Linked DNA regions of Homo sapiens: region 1 is linked to region 2. Evidence: fine-mapped expression QTL. Tissue or cell type: subcutaneous fat. Region 2 holds a variant in brackets; the other region holds the start of a gene. All regions are shown on one strand. Distances are from middle to middle.

Region 1 (8,103 bases), 140 kb after region 2:
GATATTTAGGACACTTGATTCTAATGTTCTATGTGATTGTTTTTATAATAACACGATTCGGTGCCATCATCAAATGATGTTCACCCAAATGTCGAGTGAATGTTGGTAACTCCCAGAGTTGATACTCAGAATCTTGACAGTGGAGGGTCACCTTTTTCATTAACACTAATGCGGATTATTGCAAAATAACAGGCCATGCACTGATCTAGGTTTCAAGTCCAGAGAAGTGAATGACATGCAGTTTCTTTACAAAGTATAACAGATAAAACAGAATTAAAACTTAGCAGTTTAGCAGTTAGCAGACTGTGAAGTTTAATAGTTTTTGCACTAAAAATATAACTTTACATTTTACAAATGTTTAGAACAGTATCCCCTAAATAAGAAGCATACTCACTTTCTTAAATCCAAAGTCTTTGCTAAATTAAAATGTAGCTAGTTTATAATCATATTTATAGGATGTAAAAATGTAGACTCCTTAAAAAGCAAACTATTTTAACATGTAATTCTAATTGCAAAATCACATCCTCATATTCACAGCATTGTTAACAGTATTTATTAAAATGTGCAAGGGGAGAAAACAGGAAGGTTCAGGCTGATGGGGTGAAGAAGCAGCACGGTCCCTGGAAGGCAGCCAGAAATGGGTGAGCTTTTGGAGGGCCTTCTTGTTCAGAGGGGCAGGGGATGAAGAGCCACAGGCTGGGGTCAGTCCTCAGGTGAGGGATTACACCCACATAGGGGAGCTTAGCATTTAATACAGAAATAGGAAGGATAACCTCGGCTTCCTGAATTTTACAGGGAACTTTAGTATGGACTGGGGGAAAGTGACATCTAGTGTTAGCTGAAAATAATCCAAAGTCGACTATTCAAAACTACAGTCATGACAACATGCGGTAACCAGCTGGACAACAATGACAAGTACACACCAGTTCAAGGTCCATTTTCCATTAAATCCTGAGTGCATTTTTCCTCCAAAAGCATGTTTTCCACCTTCCTTGTTGTGTCTCACTCAACAAAAATACCTCTAGAACTAATTAAAGAGTGAGTTTCTGAGGGATTTGGAATCAGATACAAAGTGACCTTCGGAACCCAAGCACACATTCCACAGGTGAGAAGCCAGAGCCAGAGAGGATGGTGGTTCCCGAAGCCGGGGTTCTCTGAGTTCCCTGGAACCCTGATCTCCCTCCTTCCTTCTCCATTTCCACGAGCACCTGCCTGTGTCCGCCCCATGCCCAGCAGCGCAGGAGCTAGGGGTGCGCAGCAGAGCCTGAGAGCAGCTCCTCTTTGGGGTCCCTCGTGTGCCTGCTGTCACATGCTACATGAGCTAACAGGAAAGCCAGAAAATCACACTGCTTAGTAAGTCTATCCTGAATATACCCATTTAGTAAATAGGAGGCCTGCGATGCAAACACACCCTCTGTCACCGAGAACTGCAATGCCAGCCCCTCTGCCAACTCACTCAGAGCCTCATGGGGTATCTTGAGAAGCAGATCTAAATTAAAACTGAAGCTTAAATGCCTTGTCTACAGTCATCATCCATAAAGATATCCAGAGACAAGAAGCTGTTGCTCCACATACACCATTCAGAAAACAAGGCAATTTTAACATCCCATGTTGGAAAAAAACAAAAACAAAAACAAGGCACACTTTTCTTAATTGGACCTCATTCAAATATTTACTGGGGAACATGTCTCCATGTCTCCTGGTAAAGTCAGGTAACTGCCTGCTTTGTAATGCATGGATTTTGCTTATGATGTCATAGACGTCAATAGAAATTCTACAGTTGAAATTAAAGATGAGTCAGCAAGGATGAGAAACATAACCAAAGCATAGAAGGAATGGGGAACCTTCTTAGGAGCTCAGATGCTTCATTCATCTCATGCAGCAATTCACATCTGTAAACAGATGATTAGGTGGTGCCCTTACCCCACATGCACCTTTAAAATGACCTAACGTGCTTTCCCCCTTCAGTGGGCAAGCTCATCACATAAATGGGCATGTTCCCGGCTCATGCCAATAATTCTTCCAGCGCCCCAGACTGAAGAAGTGTTGTCATTTAAAAGCAGCAAATGTGCTGTAAACATCAACCAATAGTAGTCTTTGAAGCTACAAGCAAGACACACTTCGCACATTGTACTGAGGTTGTCTGCCAGTGGGATTTTACCCCTCAAATCCAGGTATGGTCAGAGACAGAGCTCCATGAACTCACTTAACTTAGAAAAAAACATCGGGAACAGGCACTTGAAAGGGGAAACAAAACAGGTCTGTTACCGAACAGGAGACCTTCAAACGTGGCCAAATTCCATGATTCAAACAAGCAGTCATGATAAAGAATGTGTATAGTTTTGACTTCAGATAGAAAAAATATAACTAGAAATATAAGATTTAGAAAAGACTTTCATCTTTTTCTAGTTAAAAGCACCAAGTTCTCTTAACTGAAATGATTAAATAATTACACAAGTTGAATAATATTGTGCAGTTATGGTAAGAAAATAATTCTGCCATTAAGTAAGGATGACATTGTATACTAAGAACATTCATGTTTTCAAGACAAACCTGCCAACACCAATACTTAACAGATTCGTTTTAAATACATAAGAATCTGAGCTAACATGACCATGCACTGGTGTCTAAGGTAGGCTTAGCACATACCTAATTACTTATGACTGCAAAGTTAGGAGTCTTGCTCTTAAAATGCTCCATCTTATTGTAATACTTGGCCTCCAACGCTAAAAAAAAAGTTTCTTTCAATACAATTCAGACAGGCTGTTTCAAATAATCAAGGTCCTTATTAGAAAGAAAGCGCCAATCACATCTTGTAGCAAACAGGTGAGCAGAGGCCACTCTTGACTGGAAAACATCAAATTTAGCACCTTAATTAATACTGAGCGCAAAGGAGAGCATTTACTAGAATACGCGCAGTTGCTTTATTTGTTGACGTTATTGCCAATAACTCATCAAGTGGGTCAATCATGAAGTATGATGAATCCACTTCAACGCTTCCGCTATAATTACAATGATTAAAAGCAAGAATTGCTTTGCTCGAATGTCTGGAGAAAAATGCACAATCCCTAACCGTGGGAGGGCATCATTATAAAGCTGAAGGCAGTGACCAGACGGAAAGCCTGTGATTCCACAGCGCCTGCAGTTTTTACTGCGGTTTATTTCCAGGTAATCCCCGCATATTTTCTCGGGTTTGATTACCATGGGCAACAGTGGGATAGCTATTCATATTACAAAGTACTTCAAGAAACGAACACCCACATTTTACATGAAATTTAATTTTCATATTTTGTAGTAAAAGCCCAGAAAGGTGCTACTTGAATGAAGATGCACCTGTCTCTACATAGAAATCTTTTTAACATCACAGTAGCGACGACCACAGTCCTAGTTTAGAATCATTATTATGACGATAGGAATTTGTAGCAGCCCTCAACCCGTGGCCTTCTGAACCGTCTCTCCACTGTCCTATAAGGGAGGGCTAACTGTATTCCTGGTCGCTCCTGGGACTGGGAGCTCCTGGGGAAGGAATCCTAAAGGAGTGGTTGTCAATGCATTTTCATTAACAGCCGCGCTTCTCGGCAGCCTCCTAGGGCTGGGGTGGCCACGTGCTCCCTTAAACTGTTTTCACAACTCGAGGCTGTGCTGTGGGTGGCAACTTGAAGGTTTCCAAGAACTTTTCGTTTTTCTTTGGGCCAACATTTCTGTTTTCTGTCAATCAATAGTTTAGTTATTTAAAAATAAGAAGGTGAAGAGGGAGTTATTTAGGGTGGGAACCAGAATAGACTTCAAAAAAGAAATCCGTATTACCCAGTTGGCGTCCCAGCGGTTCCCCGAATGGCCTAGAGCCCCCAGCACCTGCCGAGGCCGCGCCATGCACCTGGCTGGGCTCAAACTGGCCAACTCAGACCTGGCCTGGGCGCCCGAAGGCTGCAGGGGGGACGCTCCGGTCCGAGCCACCGCCTGGGCCCGAAAGAGCCGCTCCTGGGAAGCAATGCCGGGCCAATCTCAAATCCCAAATTCTGGAAAGCACTACTTCCCACGCAGTAAAGGGAAGCCCGGGCGCCTCAAAACCAAACCTTGGAAGACGCTGGAGGAGCAAAGCCTGCAAGTTTCCAGTAAGACACTGGGCTGGAGGGAGCAGAGCGGCCAGGGGGCGGGTGCCCACTGCGTCCCGGGGCTCCGGCGCCCACCCTCCGGCCAGCCGTCCCCGGAGACAGGGAAGGGGTCGCGGGGAGCGAGGGGGCGTGGAGGGAGGAGGGGCGGGGGGAGAAGGGCGCGAAGGAGAGGGAAGGGGGGCCGGAGGTGAAGGGGCGCTGAGGGGCCGCACTCACCCGCGCAGGTACCAGCAGGCAGCCCTGGCGTCCGCGGGAGGCGGCCGGGGGCGGGGGTCCCTCGGTGCCCATCGCCGCCCCTGCGGCTGGGTCCGCGCTCCGGGCCGGCCGAGCTCAACGCCAGGACCCCGTCCGAGCCTCCCAGGGCCCCGCCAGGCGCCGCGTCCGCGCCCGCGCCCCTCTGCCGGCTCCGGCTCGGGCTCCACCGGGGCGCAGGGCTGGGGAACCGGAGCTCCGCCCGCCGACCCGGAGCACCGCCCACGCAGACCCGCCCCGGGCGAGGGAGGGGCCGGGCGCGCACCCGCGGGGAGGGCGGCGAGCGGGGATCAGCCGAAGTCGGGAGAGGGGCGCTTCCACGGGGCGGGAAACTGGCGCGCGACTCTGGGGGAAGTGCAGGATGGGGGGACAGGGGCGCTCCCGCGGGGGTGGATGGGGGACCATAGCGGGGCTGGCGGGGCAGGGGCCGGCGCACGAGGCTGGAGGAGGGGAGCGCGCGCTTCTACCCGGGCTGGGTCGCCGAGGTCCGCGGCGCATCGTGGCGGCGGTGGGCGGAGGGGGGCGGGGGGCACCTCTTCTCCCTTGTGGCGCAGGTGGGCGCGCTCTGGACCGGCTTGACGACCCCTCCCCGCCGCCCCACCTCCCTGGCCAAAGGTTCTCAGCTTCTAATCAGGGACATTTCTAGTCCACAGCCTCGAAGCCATGGGTTCTCCCCGGCCCTCTGAAGCCGCCACACCTGTGCCAGCCGGCCGCGTCCTCAGACCTTTCCCCGCGGAGTCTTCCCAGCACTTGGAGACGCAGCGCAGGGCCCCGAGGACGGCCTGGCCCGGAGAAAAGATACCGAAGCTCCAACTTTCCCCAACCCCGCTCCCCTCCTCCTTCCACCCTCCCTTCCCGCCCCCAAAGCTCGGGGGTCCTATCCCTCCTCCGGTCCGCGGAGTCTCCCGAACCCTGCGGGGACCCGGCGCTCGGCGGTGCCCTCCTGGGGCGCACGGGGCTGGGGCGGGAGCGAGGAGACCAGGTGGGGAGGGGACCCCAGATCTCAGACGCCAGGGGAGACGGCGTTTCCCGCTGTTCATTCAGGTTTGTGCCAAAAGGAGCCTCACAGATGCAGTATTGGGTTTGGTAGACTCAAATCGTCTTGTTTTAATGTAAATGAAAGTAAGTTTAGGATAAATTCCAGTGCGGCGGGGGCAGGCAAGGCTACCCACATTTTTTAAAAAGAAGCCAGCCCGTATTTTTCTCCCTTTCCAAATCCTCCGCCCCCCAGTCCTTCGACCCAGGCACGAGCGCCCATCGCGGAGGCCACGATGCCCGTTTTATTCCCTCTCCACGGCAAGGAAAAGCAGCGAAATCTGAGGTCTTCAGAGGTTAACCCTATCTAGGAGCAGAATGTGACGCATTGTAAACAAATAAATATTGAAAACTCGATGTTAAACACTTTACTTTTTCTGACTCCGACTTGCTTGACCCCTGAGCAGACCTGGGTTTCGAACACAGACGCCCTTCCCCATTTCTCTATTCTCTGTATTCCTGTTTCACCTTCACGGCAGTCTGCCAGCACTTCTTAGCACTCAGTTTAACCAGAGGACAAGCTCTTGAATAGCAAAAACCAGGTCTTTTTATACGTGGCACAGTGGCTGTTACAAAATATGCTTCTTGGGTGAATTGGTAAAAAATATTGTATTACTTTTTATTTGTAGCAAAACCTAGAATAAGAAAAAGTACAAGAGATTATTGTTTGCCTTTAAATTGCATTTTTAAAAGAGCGTGCATATAATCTCTGAGAAATTAAATGTCTACAAATAGCACAAAGATATTGTCTCATTACCTTGCAAAGGGACATTCTATTCCAGGGCCTGAAGAAGGAAAAACAGCGTGTTGCATGCATAAATGTTGACTTTGAGAGACAAGTTTTTGTTAAAATTTTATCGTTAAATGAATAGACACATATATTTTTGTTTTTCAGACCAAAGGTAATTGTTAATTCATTTGTAAAATAATGTAGTTTTGGCTAACAATCTCTGGAATCCTTTCTATAATAAAATTTTGTGATTCCAGGACGTCGTAGGCGCTCTGGGGCTGCTTTTGAAAGGCTAATTAATTCAAGTTTTAACTGCCTATCTGCTTTTATGCATCTGTGTCAGGACTGCACGTAAGGGTTATTTTGCTTATTTTAAATACTAGGGTTCTACTGCAATAACAATAACAATAAAAAGTAAAACCCTGACTATCCTGAAACTCTGCGAGGGAATGTCCCCCATGAGGTTACCAAAATTCAACTTTCTGGTTTTTGTGATGAGTATAGCTTTGATTCTGAGATGTGTCTAAAACCAGTTGCAGTTAGTGTCTCTTTATTAACTTTTAACTTTGAAATAATTCTGAATTTACAGAAACTTTCTAAATGTAGTACAAAAAACTCCAGTAACCCCTCATCCTCATGGGTATGTTCCAAGACCCCCAGTGGCTGCCTGATACCGTGGATAGTACTGAACTATGTATGTGTGTATATATATGTATCAATTGCATGCATATATATATGTATCAATTGCATGCATATATATATATATATATATATGCATATATATGTATGCATCAATTGCTGACCAAACTGATGTATGTGGCCTAGACAAACTGGAAGATGCCCTGGTCAAAAGGCAGGAGCAATGAGGTTGTATTTCAAGGTAAAAATACAACCTTGAGGCCGGGCACAGTGCTTCACACCTGTAATCCCAGCAATTCGGGAGGCCAAGGCAGGTAGATTGCTTTGAGCTCAGGTGTTTGAGACCAGCCTGGGCAACATGGTAAAACCGCGTCTCTACAAAAAAATACAAAAATTAGCCAGGCATGGTGGCATGCACCTGTGGTCCCAGCTACTAGGGATGCTGAGGCTGGAGAATCCCTTGAACCCTGGAGGCGGAGGTTGCATTGAGCCGAGATCATGCCACTGCGCTCCAGCTTGGGCGACAGAGTGAGACCCGGTCTTAATAATAATACAACCTTGGCCTTGTCATTTTTATAGTCAACATATTCAGAATGGCCAGGTACATTGTCTGTTACTAATGAGACTTTATATTCCAACCTTCCCCCTTCCAAGGCTTTGGGAGGAAGTACTGGTGGAGCCCTTCCATAAACATGGTGGTTACCACTCATGCTTTCTGGTTATGTTGCCTGAACACAAGCAGGTAACGTTTGTTTTTTGAGCATAAGTGTTCCTCTGTGTGTGCAGCACACCTGGCTTGGCCACACGTCCTACAGCATTGCACACGGCACAGGGTAAATCAGCCCTTCAGTGTTTTATGCCCTGGGGCCTTCTTTGCCCTTTCAAGAACGTAGGTTCTGTTGGGTATCTTCTTCCAGAGGAGCCTGGTCTCACTGCAATTGAAGACTTGCTTTGGATGGCATCCTTTCCCTTTAATCAACTTCAACTCTGCCGGAAATATGGCAGCAGCTTCTTCACTGGCAAACACAGCCTCTCCAGTTTTTTGGTTTTTGGTTTTTGGTTTCGTGACAAGCCCACTCCTAAATCAGTGTAGCTATGCCTCACTTGCCATGAATGGCTCAGTGTCACTCACTTTGGGGGACTGACTGCTGAAGTCTTCCCATGGGATTGTGCTTTCTGCGCTGACGTGCCCTCGGTGGGAACACCTTTCCGCTCATGTCTTCTACCTACAAGTTCAGCGTCTTTTCCGTCTTAAATAGGCACTTATCACTCACTGCAGCCGTAACGTTTGCAGTTTGAAATGTGATAGCAAAACTAGCATGATTTCTTTTT
Region 2 (8,103 bases):
AAATCTCCAAATCTCTTGCGCATTAAGCCATGCACCTATGTTTTGCTGTGGTCTAATCTGATGAATGCGACTGTTGCCAACTTCAGGTAGACATGAGTGACTGGTGCTGCTCTGAGGGGGCGCACAGAGGCAGCCTGGGGTAGACGGACAGTGGCCAAAGGGTGCTTTTACCTCAAAAATACACTACAGGAAAAACAGAAGTGACAGACATTCTTTGAGTTCTAAGAGGAAACATGAGCATGTTCAGGCTGAATGGCTCTGAAAGGAATCTGCTGTGCAAAGCAAGGACAAAGAAGTAAAAGGGTGGCAGAGCCCACGCCGAAGGGGGGACCTGGGAGCTCCCGCCCCGGCCAGCGGTGCAGGTGCAGATGCAGGGAGGCTGCTGTGAGGGCTTCCGCAGCCTGAGATACCCCAGGAATGTCCTTCTTAGGGGGAAATACTTCATAAACTCAAAGGAAAGAAACCAAAAATTAGAGCAAATATACCTGTGTTAAAGTGTGTATATGGGGACACAGCAAATAATACTTTAATTGGAAATTTTACCATTTCGATCCTTTTTGGACATATAGTATTTTTAACTGACAAAAATAATTTTATACACAGAAAAAGAGCCGTATTTCGGGGGCTTTGCTACAGAGTGATCGTTTTGGCTTTTTCTTGGTGTTAGACTGTATTCCAGATACTGTGAACAGCAAAGTCAGAGCCACTCCTGGGACATCCATACCACGGGCTCTCATTGCATCCACATTCTCAGTATTTACCTGAAATGCCACAGATGCTTCCCAGTGACACTGCACCAATGGACAGAGTAACAGGCTCTTAAACCTGCTCATCAAAGCATTACTGACAACAGCCAAGATATGGATACAACCCAAGTGTCCACCAGTAGATGCGAGAATAAAGAAGATGCAGTAGATACACCGAATGGAACATCCTTCAGCCATAAAGAAGGAAATCCTGCCATCTGTGGCAACATGGATGAGCCTGGAGGACACTGTGCCGAGTCGAATAAGCCAGGCGCAGAAAGACAAATACCACACGGTCTCCTGCATGTGGAATCTAAGGATGTTGAACGCAGAAGCAGAGGGTAGAACCGTGTTTACCAGGGGCGTTCAGGGTTGGGGGGCGGAGGTGCAGGCCAAAGGGTGCAACATTTCAGCTGTAAGGTAAACAAGTTCTGTGGCTCTAATGGAAAGCATGGTGACTATGGTTAATAATACCATATTTCCTTAAAATTTGCTAAGAGAATAAACCTTACATGTCCTCACCACAAAAAACAAAGGTAACTGTAAGAGGTGATGTATGTATTAGCTTGTTTGTAGTGTGCATTTCACAATGTATATGCATATGAGAACATACCCTGTACACCTTAAGCATGTACAATTTTTATTAGTTGTAGCTCAATAAAGCTGAATAAATAAATCCCATTATGTGGACAGAGGGTTTCCAAGGATATCCTCTATAGAGGAGGGAGAGGGAGTTACTCCTGCATGTGGGAGGCATACCGTTTTCCTCCTCAACACATGGACGGTTGACTTTGCAGGCCAGAATGCATCTCACAATGAATGTGGACTGCAGAACCAAGGGGGGGTTCATTCCCTCCCTCAGCAGACGCTAAATTCTGTAGTGTTCATGGCCAACTGAGGGAGTGGGGAGAAAGGCGTCCGTCCACCTGCCAGCTGCTCCTCTGTGTGCCACAGCAAACAGCCTTACGCTTCTGAGTTCTAAGGCTATGGAGGATGAGAAAATTGAATTATCTACGTCATAGTAACTGGAGGCCTCTCTGTATGGAATTTCTGAAAATGCTCAATAACATTTTAAAATTGTAGCTGTTAGTGTAAGTATTTGAAACTCATGCAAGCAAGTACAAGACGAGAGAAAATACATTTTGAGAAGAAACAAGTTAGTTTCTGCCTTGATAGACTGCCAAAGAATGACATTTTAAAACTGTCATTTGACTCACTTATACATGTCAGGAAGATATCCTGAAATACCCTAAAATATCCTTGATATTTCAAAGAAAATATCAAGAAACTGATCACCTGTGGTAAAATCTGGACTAATATTCTTAACAAGATAGGTAAGAAAAAAATTACACCATTAACAACCAACATAAATATATGTTTACTGGAATGTGAAGGGCTTGTTCTCTATGATTTTAGCTAAGCCAGAATAATATTTATTTCATACCTGCTTTGTGCAGTCTCTTGAAATGTTCCTTTCTGTGTACATTTGTACTAGCCATTTAGGTATTTAGGTCTCTAAATCTCTCTAAAATCAAGTTTCTGCATCTGGAAAGTGAGAGCTGTACTGTGAGCCCTAATAGGAAGTGCTGGGAATGGGACTGTGTCCCCCTAAAATCCGTGTTGAAGTCCTGACCTCCAGTGTGACTGCATTGGAGGTAGGGCCTGTAGGAGGTAACTAAGGTCAGATGAGGTCATTCAGGTGGGCCCTATCTGATAGGGTTGGAACAGGAAAAGACAGCAGATACAGCGCTCTCTCTCTCTCTTTTTTTTTCTCTTTTTTCTCTCTTGCTCTTTCTCTCCCCACCCCCACCTCGCTGTCTCTACCATGTGAGGACACACATATAAGGCCTTTGCCTGCAGGCCAGGAAGCTGGCCCTTGCCAGTAACTCTACCATATGAGGACACACCTATAAGGCCTTCGCCTGCAGTCCAGGAAGCCAGCCCTTGCCAGTAACTCTACCATATGAGGACACACCTATAAGGCCTTCGCCTGCAGCCCAGGAAGCCAGCCCTTGCCAGTAACTCTACCACATGAGGACACACCTATAAGGCCTTTGCCTGCAGGCCAGTAAGCTGGCCCTTGCCAGTAACTCTACCATATGAGGACACACCTATAAGGCCTTCGCCTGCAGTCCAGGAAGCCAGCCCTTGCCAGTAACTCTACCATATGAGGACACACCTATAAGGCCTTCGCCTGCAGTCCAGGAAGCCAGCCCTTGCCAGTAACTCTACCATATGAGGACACACCTATAAGGCCTTCGCCTGCAGTCCAGGAAGCCGGCCCTTGCCAGTAACTCTACCATATGAGGACACACCTATAAGGCCTTCGCCTGCAGTCCAGGAAGCCAGCCCTTGCCAGTAACTCTACCATATGAGGACACACCTATAAGGCCTTTGCCTGCAGGCCAGGAAGCTGGCCCTTGCCAGTAACTCTACCATATGAGGACACACCTACAAGGCCTTCGCCTGCAGTCCAGGAAGCCAGCCCTTGCCAGTAACTCTACCATATGAGGACACACCTATAAGGCCTTCGCCTGCAGTCCAGGAAGCCGGCCCTTGCCAGTAACTCTACCATATGAGGACACACCTATAAGGCCTTTGCCTGCAGGCCAGGAAGCTGGCCCTTGCCAGTAACTCTACCATATGAGGACACACCTATAAGGCCTTTGCCTGCAGGCCAGGAAGCTGGCCCTTGCCAGTAACTCTACCATATGAGGACACACCTATAAGGCCTTCGCCTGCAAGCCAGGAAGGCAGCCCTTTGCCAGTAACTCTACCATATGAGGACACACCTATAAGGCCTTCGCCTGCAAGCCAGGAAGCTGGCCCTTGCCAGTAACTCTACCATATGAGGACACACCTATAAGGCCTTCGCCTGCAGTCCAGGAAGCCAGCCCTTGCCAGTAACTCTACCATATGAGGACACACCTATAAGGCCTTCGCCTGCAAGCCAGGAAGGCAGCCCTTGCCAGTAACCAAACCCACAGCACCTTGGTGTTGGACTTCCACCTCCCAGAACGGTGAGAAGGGAGTCCCTGCTGCCTAAGCCAGCCCACCTGTGGTTCCTTATTACGGTGGAGCCCAAGCTGCCTCAACAGGAGTGAAGGAAGATCACTGTGGAAAGCACCTTACAGACCATCAGGTTTAACAAAAATACCAAGGTGGTTAGTTTTATCCATGAAAAATCGTTATTTTAAAACCACCTCATTCAAACACCAGGACTTCAGTGTGTCAAAGTTGAGAGAAAAGGCTCAGCCAATTTGTGTTTTCACACTTTTAGAAATGAACATTATATAATTATGAAGGCTCTAACATTTTAACATTAGCATATCTAGGAACTTTACTTTTCAAACCAAGATTTATAAAACTTACTGGATGATAAAAAGTAAACAGGAAAACTTCTGCAGCTTCTAACTGGAACTTTTCACACAGCAGCCTGGCTGAAGTTATCCTGCCTCCTGCATCCTAATTATTTTATGACCCCAGAGGCAACCCACAGCTGATCACTTTAATTTAAGGTTCTGGGTAGCATTTCCATAGTGCTCTGTTAGCTGATATCTAGACAAACTAATGTCATCAAAAGGCATTTCTAATGCAACCAAAACAGTCCGCTGCCTCAATGCTCTCCCAGTACATACCCCTTAAAGTCAAGGACCCACAAGCAGGTGCGGATCGTGAGCTGCCCCGAGGCTCATTATGAATCTAATTTATGGCCTGACTCCCCTATTCCATGCGTTCCCCCATAATCACGGCCTCCTCACTTACCATACTCAGGGGCTCCAGGGACTCACCAAAGGAACAAATTCAGAATACAATCGAATGTATCATAAAACTTCTACAGAATGGAGGTTGCAATCTAAGGTAATTGTTCAATAAATTATTTTCAAAGTCAATCCTGCTTTTCTTTTCACAAACATATCAGATAAAATCTTTCATAAAATATTATTCTGCATTTTATCATTTAATCCCAAACTATGTTATGA[C/T]ATTTAATTAATGTTCACATCTTGGTAGCAGCATCATTATATTAATAATAGAACATAGCTATCTCCACATTATCTTCTGACCACATATTTTAAGAACGAGCTATTTTCTATGACATAGATAACTTATCAATTATACATTTCTCATCAACAAAAAAGTGGTTTGGGGGTATATAAGATCATATTTCTTATTCTGGTCTTCTAAAACATTGTTCTTCAAGTTATTACTGAATTACATGTATGAATGGGCCTCACAATTCTACTTCAGATATTTAAACTGTGGACTTAACACTAAATTTAAATTTGTTATGGCTGCAAACTCATGTTCAGATTTTAATACTGCAGTTTCCAGAAAGATTTCAATCAGTTCTACAGGTAAAACACTGCGCCTGTACCATGGCCACCAGCCAGGACCCTGCCCCCAGGTTTGTTCAGCCCAAAACCCTTCTTGTGGTGAGGACAGGATGACCTGGGGTGTTAATCCCCCTGCTCTCTCCCCAGGTCCTCGTCGATCCCCCTCCCTTCCCTGGAGGTCTTACTCCTCACACAGGCCTGGCCTCACTCTTGTAAGGAGAGAATGGAGATGTGGGAAAGGCGAGGGACCTAGAAAATAAGGGTTTTTTTTTCTCTCTCTAATTGAAGGGCTTGAAAGTTAAATTTTAAAAATTAGAAATTTATAGAAAAACAATTCTGAAGTATTCTATTTCACACCCACACATGAAAGATACTTTCAAAAATACTCATAGAGTTTTATTTCAGAAAACAATGTGCTAACAGACTTCGCCCTGGGGCTATGTGAGGGGGCTGTTGAGTCAGGAGGCATTGTTTCTTCCACAGAGTTGGACATTCCCTTTGCTTTAGCAAACACTCTATAAGGCATTTTTCAGAATGGGGCATTGAATCTCTCTCCACTTTTTAAAAGTAATTCACTCAAATAAAATTTCCTAAATAGGCTGAGGGAGCCTGGATTTGCCATCTGAAGTAAGTAAACTATTTCTCAGTGTCTGGATGCAATGATTTCAAACTAAGAAGAGTTACTTGAAAACTCTTGTGCATATTTGCTTAATTTGGATGTTAAATCCTTATTAGAAGGATTTCAATATCCTGGGATTAGAGTTTTGAAAAGTGTATGATAACTCCTAAATTTTAAAAATTCAATGATTCCATAGTATTCCACCTTCTTGAGGAGTTGGATCTGGCTTCTCACACCCAAAGCCCTGAGTATGAGTTTCTTCAGGTCTAAGCACAGGCCAGGAATGACAAAAGCTGCCCTTGGCGGGCTTCATGGGGGAGCGGCCCCGTAGCCCTAACCTGATGCGGGGACAGTGCACTGGGGTCTCTGGGAGCTGCAGTCAGGAACCAGGCCCCCGGCCGCCATGACCTTATGATGTTTGCGTCCTGGCATCAGAGTCTCTGGTCCATCTGGAGCCCCTGCCTCGATCCCTGATGGGGTACAGGAGGAACCTGAAGATGCTCTTCTCCTCTGAATTAGCTTCCAGGGCTTTTCCACCCTAAGCTGTCCTCCCCCAGCCCCTGTACTGATGGGCCTGGCCCTCCAGGGGAGCTGTCCCAAGTGGTCCAGGGACCTGGGGCTGGCAGCTTTCCTGGTCAGCCTGGCCTGCACTATCAGGGCAGGTGATGAGGAGCAGGGGTGTCTGTCCATGTCAGCTGCCTCTCACCTGCCAGCTCCACACCTGGCAGCACTGCTCTTGCCAGTCAGCTGGGCACCCACCAAGATTAGTCACAGATGCGAATGGGCCTGTCATCGCCCTTCAACTTCGCTCTTCACAACCATATCACAGAGCAGACATGAACAGGGCAGGAGATGGGCCCCAGCCCCAGAACGTCAGGCGACCATCAGGTGGTGGTCAGGTGGTTGTTACACTTTCTCTCTAAAATGATCATTGGGCACAGCCAGTACCAGGAAAAGGCAGTCTCCCGGTAGATAGAAAACACCTGAGGCTGGAGATAAGCAGCTTCCCGATAAGATCTCAGGAGCTGGGCAAGTGGCCTCAAGCATGCACACTTCAAGACAAAAGGGTGGTATTTAACTGGTCTATGACTTTCCTCTGGGTGGACTCAACTGGTGAGGGAAAAACGCCTCAAGTGAACATGTGCACAGCCCCAGGAAACACACAGTGCATGCGGCCCCTCCCAAATGCTGGCCGGCCCTGTACATGCAGACAGCCCACCCCGAAGGAAGAATCAGGGAAGGGGGGCTGCAAACCTTGGAACCATGTCAATGGAGAAAACCCCAAGTCAAGGGCTGGATGGGGCTCTTGATCTCTCAAGTCACCCACCGGCCCTTGCAAATGTCCTTCACTTCCTTTCATTCCTGCTCTAAAACTTTTTAATAAACTTTCACTCCTGCTCTAAAACTGGCCTCACTCTCTCCCTCTGACTTAAACCTCTTTCTGCCCCTCAACCCAGTTCTTTCCTCCAAGGAAGCAAGAATCAAGTTTGCTGCAGACGGTTGTGGATTCACAGCTGGTAACAAGAACTCACCACATATGAGCCCCAGATTAACTTCTAGCGAATGTACACATCATTGCAAAGTTAGGCTTATTAAAATAAATATGTTGGTAATATTGAAAATATAAATTTTTCTTGTGGGGACTTACATCCAACTAAGAATGTGCAGAAAACTTATCAACTTTGGACAGTTCATATAACAACTCATAGTCCTTAAAGGAATGGACTAAGTAGATCTACATGGAGCAGGTTTTATCTTCATGCATTGTAGATCCATTTAAAAAGCATAACGTTTGCAAAATGAGCACCTAATGGCATTCCATTTATCTACAATTGAAAAACACACAAAAAATATGTTGTCTGTGGAAAAATGCGTATGAAGGAAGAATTTAAAAATGTAAATGGAACAGTCGGTAGGAGCATCAGTACCGAAAGGCCAGTGAGGAAGCAGTCAGGCTCCAGATGTGGAGGCACACTTCACTCTTTAATAACGTAGACAGAGCCAAAGCAATCTAGTGCTATGTTGGCATATAATAAATATTAATAATAATTGCACAGGGTTCTGTTTGCTCACTTCAATTTTTTTAGGTTTGAAAAATTATATACTTAAAAAAATAAAAATGTTTGGCAGATTATGCAACTGTCTTTGCTGTTAGATTTTAGTTATTGAAAGTTCTACTTGAGTGACGCGCTATTTGATTTCTTTATAAAGTGTGCTTTTGTGTGCACACACCCTCGTACACAAACATATGTAAACTATTATTATTATTATTTTGAGACGGAGTTTCGCTCTGTCACCCAGGTTGGAGTGCAATGGCACAATCTCGGCTCACTGCAAGCTCTACCTCTTGGGTTCAAGTGATTCTCTTGCTTCAGCCTCCTGAGTAGCTGGGATTACAGGGAGC

Which allele goes with the higher level. Positions count from the first base shown, and alleles are read on the strand shown. Sizes are in standard deviations (SD) of each study's normalised expression.
For the expression in subcutaneous fat of the gene that starts at base 4,551 in region 1, T is the low allele of the variant in region 2 and C is the other (small effect, 0.40 SD a copy in GTEx).

Evidence for each region. PIP is the estimated chance that this variant, and not a neighbour inherited with it, causes the effect.
Region 1: SNTG2 starts here. The variant in region 2 is fine-mapped to the expression of SNTG2 in subcutaneous fat (GTEx, PIP 0.95).

Annotation. Positions count from the first base shown.
Region 1 is chr2:947,297-955,399 of GRCh38, reverse strand. It overlaps SNTG2 (syntrophin gamma 2), which reads right to left and starts at 4,551. Exons shown (of 17, transcript NM_018968.4): 1 at 4,332-4,551. The coding sequence starts at 4,403. SNTG2-AS1 (SNTG2 antisense RNA 1) reads left to right here and starts at 4,008. Exons shown (of 3, transcript NR_136151.1): 1 at 4,008-4,115; 2 at 5,014-5,489; 3 at 5,599-5,766. RefSeq lists a silencer at 4,513-4,642.
Region 2 is chr2:1,089,505-1,097,607 of GRCh38, reverse strand. The region is part of intron 2 of SNTG2 (syntrophin gamma 2); the gene reads right to left. Among named protein-coding and RNA genes, the nearest start is that of SNTG2-AS1, 140 kb to the right of the region's middle. RefSeq lists an enhancer at 6,232-6,733. The variant C/T (reference allele first, on the strand shown) is at 4,730.